Linked DNA regions of Homo sapiens: region 2 is linked to region 1. A link means that fine-mapping ties the variant in region 1 to the expression of a gene that starts in the linked region. Tissue or cell type: regulatory T cells. Region 1 holds a variant in brackets; the other region holds the start of a gene. All regions are shown on one strand. Distances are between the middles of the regions.

Region 1 (8,000 bases):
CCCTTGCAGCAGGCGTCTGAAGTGGGGACAGCCATGTGGAGCACTCAGCCTTTAACTTGTGGGATCTGATGTTAACCCCGGGTGGTTAGTGTCAGAATTACACTGAAGTACACCAACTTGGGGTGGACACAGAGGACTGGTGTGCAAGGCCCTGATCACGCAGGGCCCCATAGAACATAACAGTGAGGTTGGATTTCATTCCAAATACAATGCTAAGCCACTGAAATATTTATTTATTTATTTAGCTGGAGAGTCGTTTAATTTCCAATAAGCTCTCTCTGGCTACAATATAGAGAGGGGCAAGCATTGAATCAGAAGACCAGTTCAGGAGGCTTTTGCAGTAGCCTAGGAAAAAAGTTGATCTTGAACTAAAAGGTGGTAAAAATGAGAAGTGTGCAGATTCAAGATGTAATTTAGTGATAGAACTGAAGGGATTGGCTTAAAAATTGGTGAGGGATAACTAGGGAAATGGAGAAATCATGGATGATACCCAGACTTCTGGTGGGAAAGCTAGGAGAAGAACAGAAGAACAGTTTCGGTGAGAAGGTAGAGTCACAACTTTGATTTGGGGCATGCTGAGTTTGCGAAGCCTAAGTTAGGACATCCAATAAGAGATGTCACATGGGTAACCAGATTTGTAACACACTATACCCTGTCAGCTTACTTCTTCAATCTGGGTGATTTTCTAACTATGCTGTGACCTTATACAGTATGTTCTAATCATTCCTCTCTCCCTACCTTTGCTCAGATGTTTTCCCTACCCTCCTCTTCTTCTTTGCCTAGACAAATCCTCTTCATGTGCAGCTCAAATCTCCCCTTCTGCAGTAGGCTTTGTCCAATGATCCTAGCCCATATTCAAATTTCTGCAGCCCTAAAAGTCAGTGTGACACTTTTGAGCAATTTAACTCCACATTGTCTTTTTATAAGAGTCTTTATTGCACACAAGTCTAGCCAGCTCTATCAGATTGTAAGCTCCTCATCCAAGGGCCACTTCTTAGATATTACTTGTGTTCTTCATAAGCACATAGTGGCTTATGCACTTTTAAATGTAGTGGTAATTAAACAGCAGATTTACATGAAAAGCTATGAAATATTCAAATGGAAGAAGGTAAAAATAATCAAATGCTTCTGCCTTCTGAAAGAGTTTTTAAAAGCAAAGCTAGAAATTTCCATTTGGCATCTGAAACTCAATAAATATTATCATTAATTAAAACTGCTGATTCAATGACTCCTGTAGACATTGTATCTTTGGAGCGTGATAAGGCATTGAGGCAGCATTCCTGAGATAATCCCGTGACGAGAGCGCTGGCTGGCATTAATGGGAATTGGAACAGGATGATTGAAAAGCCTGGACTTTGATAAACAAGGACCAATGATGAAAAACAATTCAATATCTAATAAAGGGGTGGGGAAGAGGCCACTAACAGAAGGCCTCACTGTGTCTGTTAGATCTGTTTCATTTCGTATCTTCATTAATGTCTGGGAACAAGGCTTACACATTTTGTTAATAACATTTCTGATTGGTACTAAATTAGGAGGTGCTGCAGACATCATTGAGGAAAGAGGAATAACACAGATGGATCCAAAGAGGTTAGAAATATGAATAGAAATTATCACAATGAGATTTGATTTCAGAAAAATGCAAATGAAGGCAGCTGGGGGAGAAATCATCCAAAATGCAATATAATCAGTGGGTTGGGAAACCTAGAAAGCAGCAGCATAAGAGTGTCTGGCAGGCTAGCAATGGAATAAAGAATATGCAATGACAATGTGCTGTCTCATCCCACATGGCTGGTGACAGGTACAGGGAGAAATGACTTGTCAAGGAATTGCATTGCAATACAGTCTTCTTCAATGTCCATAAACATTTTTGGAGATGGTTTGGGAAAATAAACAAAATAAGCTCAGACATTTGGGCCTTAGTTTATTCAGCTGTTAGAAAAGAATTAGACTCGTGGCTTCTAAGGTTCCCCAATTCTAACCTCCTGTGATCCCAGCTCTAACCTTCTGTGGTTCTAAGACAAAGAAAGGTTGCGAGAAAATACATGATTAAGGAGGTTCACTGTGTGCAGCACTTCTAAAGATCTTTAGGAAAAGAAGACAGGATGAAACACAAAGCTTGAAAATATGTTTCCAAATAGATTCCCAATTGACAGGACTGCATGCGGAATTCACCTTCAAAACAGTGTCTTTCTTCCAATACAGATGCCGGGCTAAATTAACATAAAATCTGATAGTTATTTGTTTACAAAAATTATCTCTACCAACTATTTCTTCAAATAAAAACTCTTTAAAGTATTGCGGTTTTTTTGGTTTACAAAAATCTAATCGCCTTAAAGTGGTTAGAAATATATCCACTGTACAAAGCAGGTAAGATCTGCATTAAAGAGTTCCCACCGTATCTGGAGATGGTGCTGTGAGAAACAGACTAGCCCTGTTGGTTGGTCTGTTCATCTGTCTAATTACCCTCTTGCTCAGACTGTCACATTTTCATCCCCTTGAGGTTCATTTTCTTAGATGATTTCTCTCATCTCACCTACTTTCACTGACCTAGATCCCCAACAAATAAGCAAGTAAGGCATCTTAGGGGTGGGGAAATTTTATTTTCTACCTTAATAGGTTCATTTTTGTTGGTAGAAAGTATAATTAATCCTGCCAGGTAAGTGCAGAAAGAAAATGCCGTACCCCACGCAGCAGCCTCTGGAGAGTTTCCTGGTTTCCTTTCTCTCTCTCTTTCTTGCTCTCTCGCTCACCTGCTAGGCCACCTCCCACCTGCACCACTTTGTCGGAGTATTCCGCATAACGGAAGGGGTTACAATGCAGCATGCATGGAATGACAATGCTTTAATGAATTGATAAATCACCGTCTTCACTGCTTAGAGACGACCAAGCTATTTGCTCTTTTCTCATGACTTCCAAATGTTCCAAATGTGCCCTGGATGGTGAAATGCTGTGGAAGAAGATAATGTGAGGCATGATGTGCAAATCTCACCTTCCAAAATCACACCAGGAAAAGCTGTCAGGGCATCTGGGTCAGGACCACTTCTGCTGCTGCCTGTTTACATGGAGGAGAAAACCAACAACACCCACCCATCTTGAAAGGAAGAAGGCAAACCTGTTTCTGATGTGCAGAAGAAAAGTTGTGCATCTGAAGCTTAGGCTCATGGCTAGGAAAGGTGGCAACACTGAAACAGGATTTCTGAAGGGAGACTTAGAACCCACAGAGAGCCACATAAGGTTAAGGATTCCTGAGCTGCACTAAAGTTCTGGTGTTTTGTTCTCTTCTACACAACCGCCACTGCATGCTGCTGCTAACAGCATGAGCTGTACTTGAGGGTGCTGCCTCGCACACAAGTCTCCCTCCTTGACATGCACACCCCCCAGAGACCCAGCCTTGGGGGATGGTCTATTATCCTGAAACAGGCACAAACTCTTTGGGGTCTCCTGACTGTGTTCTGAGGCTTACTCAAGCCATGGAAACGCATGAGGCCATGTCACTCCCTGCCTAAGACCTGGCAGTGCCTTCCTGTGATATGTAGAACAATATCTGAACTCTGCCTGACAGAGCCTTGCACTGATGTGGCCCCCATCCCCCACTCTGGCCTTGCACTCACATGGACCAGCCACGCTGGCCATCTTTCTGCTCCTTGGACACAGCATCCTCATTCCTGGTTTTGCTTTGACTCCTCCCTCTGGATGCTCTTCCTCTACCCTCCTCTCCTTCAGGTCTCAGCACTAATGCCACCTCCTCAGCAAGGTCTTCTCTGACCACACTTTGTAAAGATGCCCCATCTTGGGCCTCTATGTGATGTTACTCTGTTTAATTCTTTATATCCTTCTCTCTCTGAATACATTTGTTTGTTCATTTGCTCACATGTTCATTTGCTGTCTCTCCTACTGTAATATACACGTTATGAGGACAGGGACCTTGTCTGTCTTGTTCTCCTGTGCCTAGAACAATGCTTAACACATGTGTTTGCTGAATGAAAGGATAAATGTGCATTTGGACACTGGGAGAGGCACTAGAGCAGGGGTCCGCAACCCCCGGGCCACGGACTGGTATGAGAATCTAATGATGAATGTTATGTATTTGAATCATCTTAAAACCATCCCCCCACCCTGCCATCTATGGAAAAATTGCCTTCCATGAAACTGGTCCCTAGTGCCATAAAGGCTGAGGACTACTGCATTACAGCACAGCAGTAAGAGGGTGACTTCTGGAGTCCAGATGCTTACATTTAAACCCCTCTTCTGTCACATAAATCCGAATGTCCTTGGATAGGTTACATAACCACTTTTCTGTTTTCTCGCCTATCAAATGAGGAAAATAATAGTACCTACTTTGTAGGGGCATTATCAATGACTTTTTTTTTTTGAGACAGAGACTCGCTCTGTCACCCAGGCTGGAGTGCAGTGGCACAATCTCAACTCACTGCAACCTCCACCTCCCAGGTTCAAGCGATTCTCATGTCTCAGCCTCCCAAGCAGCTGGGACTACAGGCACACGCCACCATGCCTGGCTAATTTTGTTTTTTGTTTTTT[GTT/G]TTTTTTTTTTTTTGAGACAGTTTCAGCCTTGTTCCCCAGGCTGGAGTGCAATGGCCCAATGTCTCATGCCTGTAATCCCAGCACTTTGTTATTTTATTTTATTTTTTTGAGATGGAGTCTCCCACTGTCACCAGGCTGAAGTGCAGTGGCACAATCTCAGCTTACTGCAACCTCCACGTCCCAGGTTCAAGCGATTCTCCTGCCTCAGCCTCCCAAGTAGCTGGGACTACAGGTGCACGCCACCACGCCTGGCTAATTTTTGTATTTTTAGTAGACACGGGGTTTCACCATGTTGGCCAGGATGGTCTCGATCTCTTGACCTCGTAATCCGCCTGCCTCGGCCTCCCAAAGTGCTGGGATTATAGGCATGGGCCACCACACCTGGCCCAATCCCAGCACTTTGGAAGGCCAAGGCAGGTGGATCACTTGAGGCCAGGAGTTTGAGACCAGCCTGACCAACACGGTGAAACCTTATCTTTACTAAAAATGCAAAAACAAGCTGGGTTTGGTGGCGCGCACCTGTAATCCCAGCTACTCGGGTGGCTTAGGCATGAGAATCTCTTGAACCTGGGAGGCGGAGGTTGCAGTGAGTCGAGATCACACCACTGCATTACAGCATGTGCAACAGAGTGGGACTCCATCTCAAAAAAGATAAAAAAGAAAAAGAAAATATTTAAGTAATAATGGCTGAGAATTTTCCGAATTAATGACAAGCACCAAACCATAGATCCAGGACACTCAGAAAACTCCAAGCAGGATACATACCAAAAAACCCTACACTTAGGGTTTACACCATGCCCAGCTAATACTTAGGTATCATCATATTCAAACTGCAGAAAATCAAAGACAAAGAGAAAATCTTGAAAGAATCCAGAGTGGAAAAAATCCCTCCTTACCTATAAAGGAGTGAGGAGAAGAATTATACCAGGTTTCTCTTCAGAAACCAGCAAGCAAGAAGAGAGTGAAATAAAATATTTAAGTGTTGAAAGAGAAAAATCCACCCACCTAGAATTCTGTACTCAGCAAAATTACTCTTCGAAAATGAAGTAGAAATAAGGACTTTCTCAAGCTGGGTGTGGTGCTATGTGCCTATAGTCCTAGCTACTAGGGAGGCTGAGGTGGGAGGGGCGCTTAAGCCCAGGAGTTCAAGGCTGCAGTGAGCCATGATTGCTCCACTGCACTCCAGCCTGGGTGACGGAGTGAGACCCTGTCTCTAAAAAAAAAAAAAAAAAAAAAAAAAAAAAAAAAAAAAAGACATTCTCAGACAAACCAAAATTGAGGGAATTTGTCACCAGTATACTTGCCTTGCAAAAAATGGTAAAAAGAGTTCTTCAGAGAGAAGAAAAATTATATCAGAAACCTGGATCTACATAAGTGAAGGTAAAATAGAAACTTTTATTATTCTTATTCTTAATCTAACACATAACAATTTGTTCAAAATAAGAATAGTAACAATTTGTTTAGTGATTATAGCTTATGGATACGTAAAATGAATGACAACAATGTCGTAAAAGACAGGAGGGAGAAATTGGGAATACACTGTTAGAAGGTCCTTGTGCTACTGCAGGTACTATTATGAAGTGGTACAGTGTTATTTGAAAGTGGGTTTCGATTAGTTGTAAATGTATATTGCAAATTCTAGGGCAATCCATAAAAATTTTTAAAAAGAAGTATAATTCATATGTTAAGAGAGGACAGAAAATAGACTTATACAAAATGGTCCATTAAAACCACATAAAAATAGAAAAAGAGTAGAATACACAAATAAAAAGTAAGAAAAAGAGCAGCAAATGGAAAACAGAAACTTGGTAGATATTGATCCAACTATATCAATAATTGGTAACTTGGTAGATATTAGTCCAACTATATCAATAATTACTTTAAGTGTGAATGGTCTAAATATACCAATTAAAAGACAGACTGTCAGAGAGGATTAAAAAAAAAAAAGACTAAACTCTATGTTGTTTAGAAATCATGCTGTAGGACAGCACATAAGAATATCCAGTGGGTGGCCTGAATCAGGACAATGGGGTTTCAGTCTGTCTATCCACTAATTAGCTGTGTGAACTTCGAGAAGTCACTGGTATTCTCTGTTTACTCCTCTGTAGAATATGAGAATTTAAGCTAAATCCCTTTAGTTCTCTTCCAGCTCTCAATCCAATGCCTCATTACCATGACTTGATAAGGAAATATGAGCCACGAGGGAGTGGGCTGAAGCATCTAGTAGGTGCTTTTGGTTGGACTGGGTCTGTGAGAGACCCAGATGTAGCCAGCAGAAGCAGATGCATGAGCGTGACAGCACAAATCTGAATCCTGGCTCTTCCTTGTGAAAACTTAACTCTTGGAGAACAGGCATCTCTCACCTGGGTCCATCTTTGACTTGGAGCAAATTATAAGGAAGTTGCAAGCAGTCTTTAGGTTGACTTCACCCTACTGGCAAGGAAGGAGGATAGACCATAGAGGAACTCAGGAGATCTTTGCTGAATACAAGCGTTCAGGTTCAGAGGGGACAGAGGATTTTATAGCTCCTTATCAGGCATTCCTGCCCCATCATCATCTTTTTTTTTTTTTTTTTTTTTTTTTTTTTTGTGAGATGGAGTCTCACTCTGTCGCCCAGGCTGGAGTGCAGTGGTGTGATCTCATCTCACTGCAACCTCTGCCTCCCGAATTCAAGTGATTCTCCTGTCTCAGCCTCTCAAATAGCTGGGACTATAGGCATGCACCACCATGCCCAGCTAATTTTCGTATTTTTAGTAGAGACGGGGTTTTGCCATGTTGGCCAGGCTGCTCTCGAACTCCTGATCTCAGGTGATCCACTCGCCTCGGCCTCCCAAAGTGCTGGGATTACAGGTATGAGCCACCACGCCCAGCCCATCATCATTTTTTTAGACTAAAAGTATCTCCACCTTTCCTACTATTGCCTCTCAGCCCCATACATACATCTTCTATAGAAGAAAAAGAAAAGGAGTTTAAAATGTTTAAGTCTCAACGTTAAGAATACTGTTCTTAATGCTCAAGGTCTTGTTTGTAGCATCTAGCAAAAACCCTGCTGATCCCAAACAGAGACAGCTATGGCATGACTTGTCCATTTTGGCCAATGGCATGACCATTCCGGTGAAGGAGAGAAGAGAGAGAATCTTTGAAACTATCTTTAAAAACCCATGGATTATCAAAGGGAAACTAAATCAATGACTGCATTAAGTCAGGGTTGTAAGTCACCATCCTACACTGGCAGATCATAGCATTTTTTCATTTCCCCAGGTTGTTCTCCTCATAGGGTTAAGTGGTTTAAATAAATTGTTCTAGACACTGACTAGTTCTAGTTCTGTTCTAGTTCTCTCCCACTGACACAGTTCTGCATGTTATGGAAACTGGCCCTAATCTGATCTTAGAGAGGTACCTTCCACCTAGGTCTAAGTGACATTGTTATAAAACCCCAGGTCCATGAAACACTG
Region 2 (8,132 bases), 330 kb before region 1:
AAGGAAAAAAACCTATTTCTAAAACCAACTGATTTTTAAAGTATTTTAGGATGAAACTGTAATCACTTTATTCTCAGATTTGCAGAAGGAAATGCACACAGAACTGTGTTTAATAAATTCAATTTGGATACTCTATTAACCAGTCTTACCCTCAATATTGAGACTATAAAACTGTTGCCCTTATAATATCCCTCAAAATGGGAGAAAGAGGAAGGGACAGATACGGTGGGGAGTGCAGACACCAAAAAAAAAAAAAGAGAGAGAAAAAAGTCTGAAAGTTTTTCATTCAAAAAGAAAGCCTTAACGTCTGGAACAGGATAGGGCTGCATAATTGGAAAGTTAAGAAAAGTCAAATATTAGAGCCCTTAAAAATGAGAACATTATTTTTAAGTGTAATTTTAAAATCAACCTGGCTAGGCCGGGCGCAGTGGCTCACGCCTGTGATTACAGCACTTGGGGAGGCCGAGGCAGGCGGATCACCTGAGGTCGGGAGTTCGAGACCAGCCTGACCAACATGAAGAAACCCTGTCTCTACTAAAAATACAAAATTAGCCAGGCATGGTGGAATATGCCTGTAATCCCAACTACTTTGGAGGCTGAGGCAGGAGAATTGCTTGAACCTGGGAGGTGGAGGTTGCGCTGAGCCAAGATCACACCACTGCACTCCAGCCTGGGCAACAAAAGCTAAACTCCGTCTCAAAAATAAAATAAACCTGGGTAAAATTTTATTTTCAGTAAATGACAGTTGGTTACTATCTAGAATGTTTATTAACTATGAATATAAACATTTCTCCATTTTTCCTGAGATTATTCAAAAAAGTTGTAATATTACATCGTTTTAGGTAGCAGGTCAAGTGTAATTACTTCGAAGAGTCAAAACACTGACCTTCAAATTTAAGTTTATGGTCATTTCAAATCACTGGAAACAATTACATGAGACTCAAAATACATAATGGAGTAATGTCAAATAGTTTATAGTTTAATCTTAATTTGCCACTATTAGCTAGCAGTGAAATTGAGCTGCTAGTGCCCACCACTCACCAAATACAGGGAATAACATTCATCGAAACTGTGACCCCAGTCTTTTTTTTTTCCTCTTTTTTGCTTTTCCCCTTGCCTGTTTCCCATCTGCTTTTTCTCCAAGGTAAAGCTGGACTGATTTCAGTGGATGAGAATACAGTGATAAGCAAATCTTTAAATGTTACCCTAAATAGGCTCTTAAAATAGAATGTAGCTTGTAAAGATATAAGTTAACTGCCTGCAAGTTAGTGGCCTTCTACTCTCCAGTGGTGGTGTATAAACCCCTGAAAATTCAAATATAATCCTAAAAGCAGAAAGACTGACATTTAGGGGAGGGGAAAGGATGGATAAAAAGAACAATACTCAACCTACCAGCCTCCAAAGAGAAGTCATGCAATTGTGAATACATGTCAACCAACTGTTATTAATATTCCAGCCAAATCACACTGAAAATAAAAAATCTGGTAAGAGCTGTAGTGGAAAGCCACATTAGCCCACCTTTTAATGGTATATATATACACACACACACACACACACACACTTCTTATTAAAGGTCTATTTACAAATATGCTAGGTAAAAGACAAACATTTTTCCATAATACACAGTGCTGCTTAAAGAACTGCTTCAGACATCTCCAGAATATTTCAGTATAACATGCATGACATTTTAAACACAATATTTTATATCAAGGAGTCTTCATATTTAGCCATTAAACTTAAATTCCAACAAAAATATTTTTCATCTTAAAATAAATCAAATGTGAAGATTACGGTAATATTTTTTCTTGCTCGATATAAAAATATCGTTACTAATTGTTTAGCTTAAATTGCCAAACTGCAACTACATGCATTACCACAGACCAAATACCATGTAACGGCATCAATTTTGCCCAAAGATTACACATGATGCCTATAAAAGGTATATATCCCAGGTACAAACCTACTGTATGTACTATGGTCTAGAATTTCCTGGGGATCAATGGGCAACTAACCAATACACAGCCTCTACATATTATGACTACTGAAACCTTTATAATACAGAAATAAAATTTAAAAGTTTTACCATTCTTCCCGCTGTGCCGTCGCTGCTTCAGAGTGTCGTGGGGAGGAGTTTGAATGGCTAGGGAATTAACAACCGGTACAGCAACCAATCAAAATTCTAGTTTTAGTTTTTGACACTGTTAGGGTTAAAAACTTTAATTCATTTACACTTCAACAGTAGGTAACTATAAAGTCAGCTGCTTTGCGATTTGAATTATCAGGGCTAACAGAAAGCCTGCCCCAAACAGGAAGTTATACAATTAATCATTTTGGTGCCTCTGTCCAAAGAACAGAATTCAGCAAACGAAAACCAAAATGTTAAAGGTTTTAAGTTTCCAAATATCTAACATCTTCCTTTCTCAAATAAGCTATATACAATTCGAGTTGGTTCTGTTTAATTTTTAAAAGTTTGCTTCCCTTCCCACCACCACTCCCCCAAAACCAGCACTATCATCAAACAGCCTGACAAGAATCTGCCTAGGCTGGGCTTAATAAACCCTATATTCCAAAGTGCTTCTCCCCTCCCAACTTTCCCTCCAAATCCTGGGCTCTTTCTCAGTAAAGGAAATCGTGTTTTCTAATACTAGATTAAAGCGACATCTTGTTATATCCACCAACACCTTTCTCTTTACAGTTAAAAAAAAATTCAGACACACACACACCCCTCCCCATTACAAAAAGGAATGGAAGCGTGAACCCACGATCATCGGTCAGTAATCGGAGCTAAGAAAACTCAACCAAGAAACCTGATTTAGTCCCTCCTGCTAACTCCCGTATTATGTTCCCAATCCCAAATGCTGCATTTTAATACACTAAATGCAGATTTAGGTAGTATATACAACTGTTATTTCAATTGGAGGAAGCAAGTTAATACTAAGAAATTTGCACCAAAAAGAAAAAAAAAGTATCCCATAGCACAATACAGGATTTGTTTCTCTTAAGAGGACTACAGGCCTCCCTTAGTGGGCGGGAAACAGATATCAAGACACCAAAATAGGATCCTGGGCACCGGGAAAAAAAGGGGGCTGGGGGTTGTAAAAAATTAGGTTGCACATAAAAAGTAAGGTACAATCTGTACTAACAGTTGGGGAACCCAATAGCTGAGGGCGCGAAAAGGGTGCGCGGTTAGAATAACTCAGTGGGGTGGGGGAAGGGTAGATGCTAGGCCGGAGATAGGAACAGCTCCAGTCAAGTGCAGGCCCGATCGACTAAGAACTTAACCAGAGCCCGCGGAGCAAAACCAATGTACCAACAAGAAACTCGGAGCATTTCACCAGACCCAATTTGGTCTGCATGTCAAAATGTAGGGCCTGTATGAGTATGCCATTGTGCGATAGCGTATGGTGGAGAAAATGAGTAAATCCTTAGGCGAAACTTATTCAAAATCCCAAGAAAACAGTCGGCCTAAGGCCGACAAGGGAGAGGCAGAGGTGGACAGCCTACGCGTTCCCCAAAACATGTGCTTATAAACAATCGCATCGTTTCAGGATGGTGGAGAAGCACCAAATAAACCTTAGTAATACAAACAGAGAAGCTGTTTGTGTCTGTGTTTTTATGCCCAAGACTGTAGAAAAAGGGAAAAAGAGGGGACAGCATGGAAAGAAAAAAGGTACCCCACGACAGGCGGGAAAAAATCCTGGCGGCTAAGTCGGTGGGAGGAGACCCATGGCGAGGGAGGAAAGGAGGGCGGGCCGAGGAGCAGCATGGTGACGGCTAAAGGTGGAAACGTGTGTGATGGGGGAGGGGGGCGATAAGCAGGCAAAGGAAGAAGGAAATGAAGGTCCGGGGAACCCAACATAGAAAAAGGGAGACCAGTGCAAGGAGGCTGCATGGGGGCCCGGAGAACGGGCTGAGAGCGGGAACCAGGCCTAATGGCGGGGGAATAAAGAGGGGGAGGGGGACTAGTTGGGCCTGACTATCCTGGGATGCCCCTTACTCACCCTTCATCCTCCTCGTTCTTACTGGCGTCAATCTTCGCCCCCTCCGACTCGGCGCTGCCCCCTTCGGTGCCTCCAGACGCGGTTCCGCCCCCGGTCCCGGCTCCGCTTCCCGCCGCCGCCGCTGCCCCCTGTGTCGCCGCCACCATGGCTCCCTCCTGCTCGCCCGCCGAGCCGCCTACCGCCGCCGTTGCCGCTGCCGCCGCCCCGTCCCCGCCGAACTGCTCCTCCGACATAGTGCTAGTGTCTCCGCCGCTGCCGCCGAGACTACACCCGCCGCTGCCGCGAACCGAAACTAGCAGCAAAGTAATCCCCGCCGCTGCCGCGCGCCCGCTCTACCTCGCGAAGCACACAAGACAGGGAAGGCGCGCGCGTGGCTGCAAAGGCTCCTGCGCCTCTCCCTGGCCTGCCCCCTTCGCCTCCCACTCTCGCGCGGCGCACACTCCCGCTCTCTCCCGCTGCACTAAAAAAGAATAAGCACCAGCGGCGGCCGCTCTCGCCTCCTCCTCGCTTTAATGGCGCCGCCGCGGACCACCTAAAATGGCCGACGGAAGAACGGCGCGTCCCGGTCACGTGACGCGAGAGCGCGCCCTTCGCGCGTCCCCCCACCCCTATCCCCCTAGTTTTTTTTTTTTCCCTTTCCTCCTCGGTCCCGCCCTCTCGCTACCCTTTATACCTTCCTCTCACGCTCCGCGTTGCACAGCCTTGGGGGCCTTTAAAAGGAACCGGAAGTGTCGTGAGCTAAGACAGTCGCGCGGGGACCATCGAGAACAAGGAGTGCTGTTTCGAAGTAGCGGCTAGAGGGGCCCCCTGCCTCCGCCCCCGCCCTTCCGAGGATTCCTGGAGTCCACTCACCCCTCCCCACCACTCCAGTAGCGGCGGGAGCAGCAGCGTTAGGCCGGGGTGTGGCTGCACCTCTGCGAAGGCTGTCGTGCCCCGTGCAGCTGCGGCGTTCGGGTGGGGGAGGGGAGGCTCACACCCTGCGGCGGCTTAAGCCTGGATTTACGCACTGGAGGAGGGAATTAGCCCTGAGATGTCAGCCCTGTGCCCCTGGCGCTGTCCACCCGGACGCCCGCGGAGCGCCAGGCGCCGCAGCGGACCGCGCGCGCACTGATTGCCGCAGCTACTCTCCCTGCCGTCGCCGCCCGGGACCGGGTGACATTGAGGTTTTCGTCTATCGCCGCTGGGCCGATAGGGCTTCTTTTTAAGATTTGGCTTTCCAAGTAAGATTTTTGTTTGCCTGCTTTTCTCCTGGAATTTTTTTGTTTTTGGTCGAAGAAGCAGGTAACTTGCATATCTTAAGGAAAACATTGTTTTTGCTTTGCTTTTGTTGTTTAAAGATCCTAAAACGTACCGTGATTCCTTTACGTTACTAATAATTGGAAAGTGTGTTAAATCAAGGGTTCGCTTAATGTTCTTTAGCCTTTGTACATAGAATATATAAATGTCGTGAGTCATCTTTACGAGGTTTATGAGTTTGTGTTCGGGTTTGGCTTTTTTGTTGTGTGTGCGTGGTTTTTTTTTTTCTTTTCTTGTAACACCGTTAGGCGTTTCATTAAGGTGTATAAAAAGTAATTTTATACACCTATTAAAAATTCCCGCTGCCTCGGCTGGAGACTGGATTATTCGGGCTTTGGGATTTGCTGCTTCCAGCAGTATCCTTAGAAGAAAATGAAGCTTCTAGGTACTTCTGTAGTCAACAAATAATTATTTGCCTGTTTAATTAAAGTGTTCGGGCACGGGGGAAACAAAGACGAGTTTGCAGACTCCAGCAAAAATCTTAAGAGTTTAAGTATTTGGGCCGGGCGCGGTGGCTCACGCCTGTAATCCCAGCACTTTGGGAGGCCGAGGCGGGCGGATCACGAGGTCAGGAGTTCGAGACAAGCCTGACCAACATGGTGAAACCCCCGTGTCTACTAAAAATACAAAAATTAGCCGGGCGTGGTGGCCGGTACCTGTAATCTCAGGTACTCAGGAGGCTGAGGCAGGAGAATCGCTTGAACCCGGGAGGTGGAGATTGCAGGGAGTCGAGATCATGCCACTTGCACTCCAGCCTGGGCGACAGAGCGAGACTCCGTCTCAAAAAAAAAAAAAAAAAAAAAGTTTAGGTATTTTCCACTGCAGTTAAACGAATTTGTATTAATTGGACACTATCCAAAAATCTCAAAGGAAGATTATAAGTAAGTTTTATTAATCAAGTTAGTAGAATTTACATTACAGAATAATTAAAACTCAAGAATACAGGTCAAATTCTGAAAACGTCCTAAAAATATAATCTTACCAAACTCCCGTAATAATCAAGTCACATAAAGGTAATACCAAGAATGTTTACCGTAAAGTGGTAGTGACTCCACATTTGTCTCCACCTGCCAGAATATTAGCAAAGGATAAAGTGGATATGGTGCTCAAACCATATATTCCGGGTTAGATACAACTAAGATGATTGACTGAAGGGAAGTCTGTTTAATCTTTTCTGGCTCAAGTGACGGTAATTGTCATTTATTTTGATCTTAAGATATCATTAGACATACCCACCTTTTGGTAATAGTGACTTTTCCAAAAGGTTCATTTTGATTTCACATGTAGCTTAGGAGCTTCTGGAATTCTTAGAATTTATGTCAAAAGTTCCAGACAACCTAGGAATGATTTTAAAGCTAACACCTTTACATGCTTTATGAGGATGTATGATGTCCATATCACTGATAGTCCTTGATATTATGGCCAAGATCTCTACATCCAGGATGTGCTCCTGCATCCACACAATATTCTTCTTGGAACTCACTTAACTTCTGGCAGGCGTGGTGGCTCACGCCTGTAATCCAGCACTTTGAGAGGCCAAGTCGGGAGGATTGCTTGCCTCAAGGAGTTGGCCATCAGCCTGGGCAACGGAGTGAGACCTTGCCTCTACAAAAAGTCAGAAAATTAACCTGGCATGGTGGTTCCTGTTGTTCCAGCTACTCCTGAGGCTGAAGTGGGAGGATCACTTGAACCTGGAAGGTGGAGGCTGCAGTGAGAAAGGCAGAGTGAGACCCTGTCTCAAAAACAAACAAATGTTACTATTTATGTGAAGTCTTCCCAGGCTTCCTGAGGCAGAATTAATGATCCCTTTTCACAGCCCTTTATCTTTACCTCTGTTATTCTTCATTGTTTTCTACTAGACCATGAGTTCTTAGAAAACAGTGTCTTCTATGTATCTCTCCCTCCCTAACACACTCTCACACACACATAAACACAGCAGCAGTATATCCACACTATGTAATTGCCAGTTGAATTATTGAATGACAAAATAATAAGTATGTCCAACTTGTTAGATTAAGGGGCTTTCAAGCAAACTAGGTGTTCTTCCAGGGACTTGAAAGTCTCCTCTCCACACCATCTCATTTCATCTCTGGCATTAAAAAAAAAAAAACTTTTGGCCAGGTGCTGTGGCTCATGCCTATAATCCCAACACTTTGGTAGGCCAAGGAGGGATGATTGCTTGAGCCCAGGAATTTTTTTTTTTTTTTTTTTTTTTTTGAGACAGAGTTTCACTCTGTTGCCCAGGCTGGAGGTGCAATGGCGCGATCTCGGCTCACTCCCGGGTTGACGCCATTCTCCTTCCTGTCTCCCAAGTAGCTGGGACAACAGGCACCTGCCACCACGCCCGGCTAATTTTTTTTGTATTTTTAGTAGAGACGGGGTTTCACTGTGCTAGTCAGGACGGTCTCGATCTCCTGACCTCGTGATCCGCCCGCCTCGGCCTCCCAAAGTGCTGGGATTACAGGTGTGAGCCACCGCGCCCGGCCAAGCCAGGAATTTGAGACCAGCCCCGGCAACATAGCAAAACCTATCTCTACAAAAAATTTAAAAAATCAGTTCCTGCCCACCCAGGGACGCCTTGGGTTGTGTTTAACCCGTTTCTGTTGCCGGGTGCGGTGGCTTACGCCTCTAATCCCAACACTTTGAGAGTCCGAGGTGGGTGGATCACTTGAGGCCGGGAGTTCGAGAGCAGCCTGGGCAATGTGGTGAAACCCCATCTCTACTGAAGATACAAAAATAAGCTGGGCGTGGTGGCGCACGCCTGTAATCCTGGCTACTGGGGAGGCTGAGGCAGGAAAATTACATGAACCCACAAGGCAGAGGTTGCAGTGAGTA

Direction of the effects. Positions count from the first base shown, and alleles are read on the strand shown. Sizes are in standard deviations (SD) of each study's normalised expression.
For the expression in regulatory T cells of the gene that starts at base 4,547 in region 2, allele G in region 1 goes with a higher level than allele GTT (moderate effect, 0.54 SD a copy in Bossini-Castillo 2019).

The links. PIP is the estimated chance that this variant, and not a neighbour inherited with it, causes the effect.
Region 2: it holds the start of HNRNPD, and the variant in region 1 is fine-mapped to the expression of HNRNPD in regulatory T cells (Bossini-Castillo 2019, PIP 0.95).

What each region holds. Positions count from the first base shown.
Region 1 is chr4:82,695,028-82,703,027 of GRCh38, forward strand. The region is part of intron 2 of SCD5 (stearoyl-CoA desaturase 5); the gene reads right to left. It overlaps LOC124900727 (a long non-coding RNA gene), which reads right to left and starts at 4,367. Exons shown (of 2, transcript XR_007058166.1): 1 at 2,993-4,367. The variant GTT/G (reference allele first, on the strand shown) is at 4,543.
Region 2 is chr4:82,369,445-82,377,576 of GRCh38, forward strand. HNRNPD (heterogeneous nuclear ribonucleoprotein D) reads right to left here and starts at 4,547. Exons shown (of 9, transcript NM_031370.3): 1 at 4,002-4,547; 2 at 2,084-2,140. The coding sequence starts at 4,234. HNRNPD-DT (HNRNPD divergent transcript) reads left to right here and starts at 5,124. Exons shown (of 2, transcript NR_183813.1): 1 at 5,124-5,221. RefSeq lists enhancers at 3,096-3,145, 4,506-4,675 and a silencer at 4,046-4,145.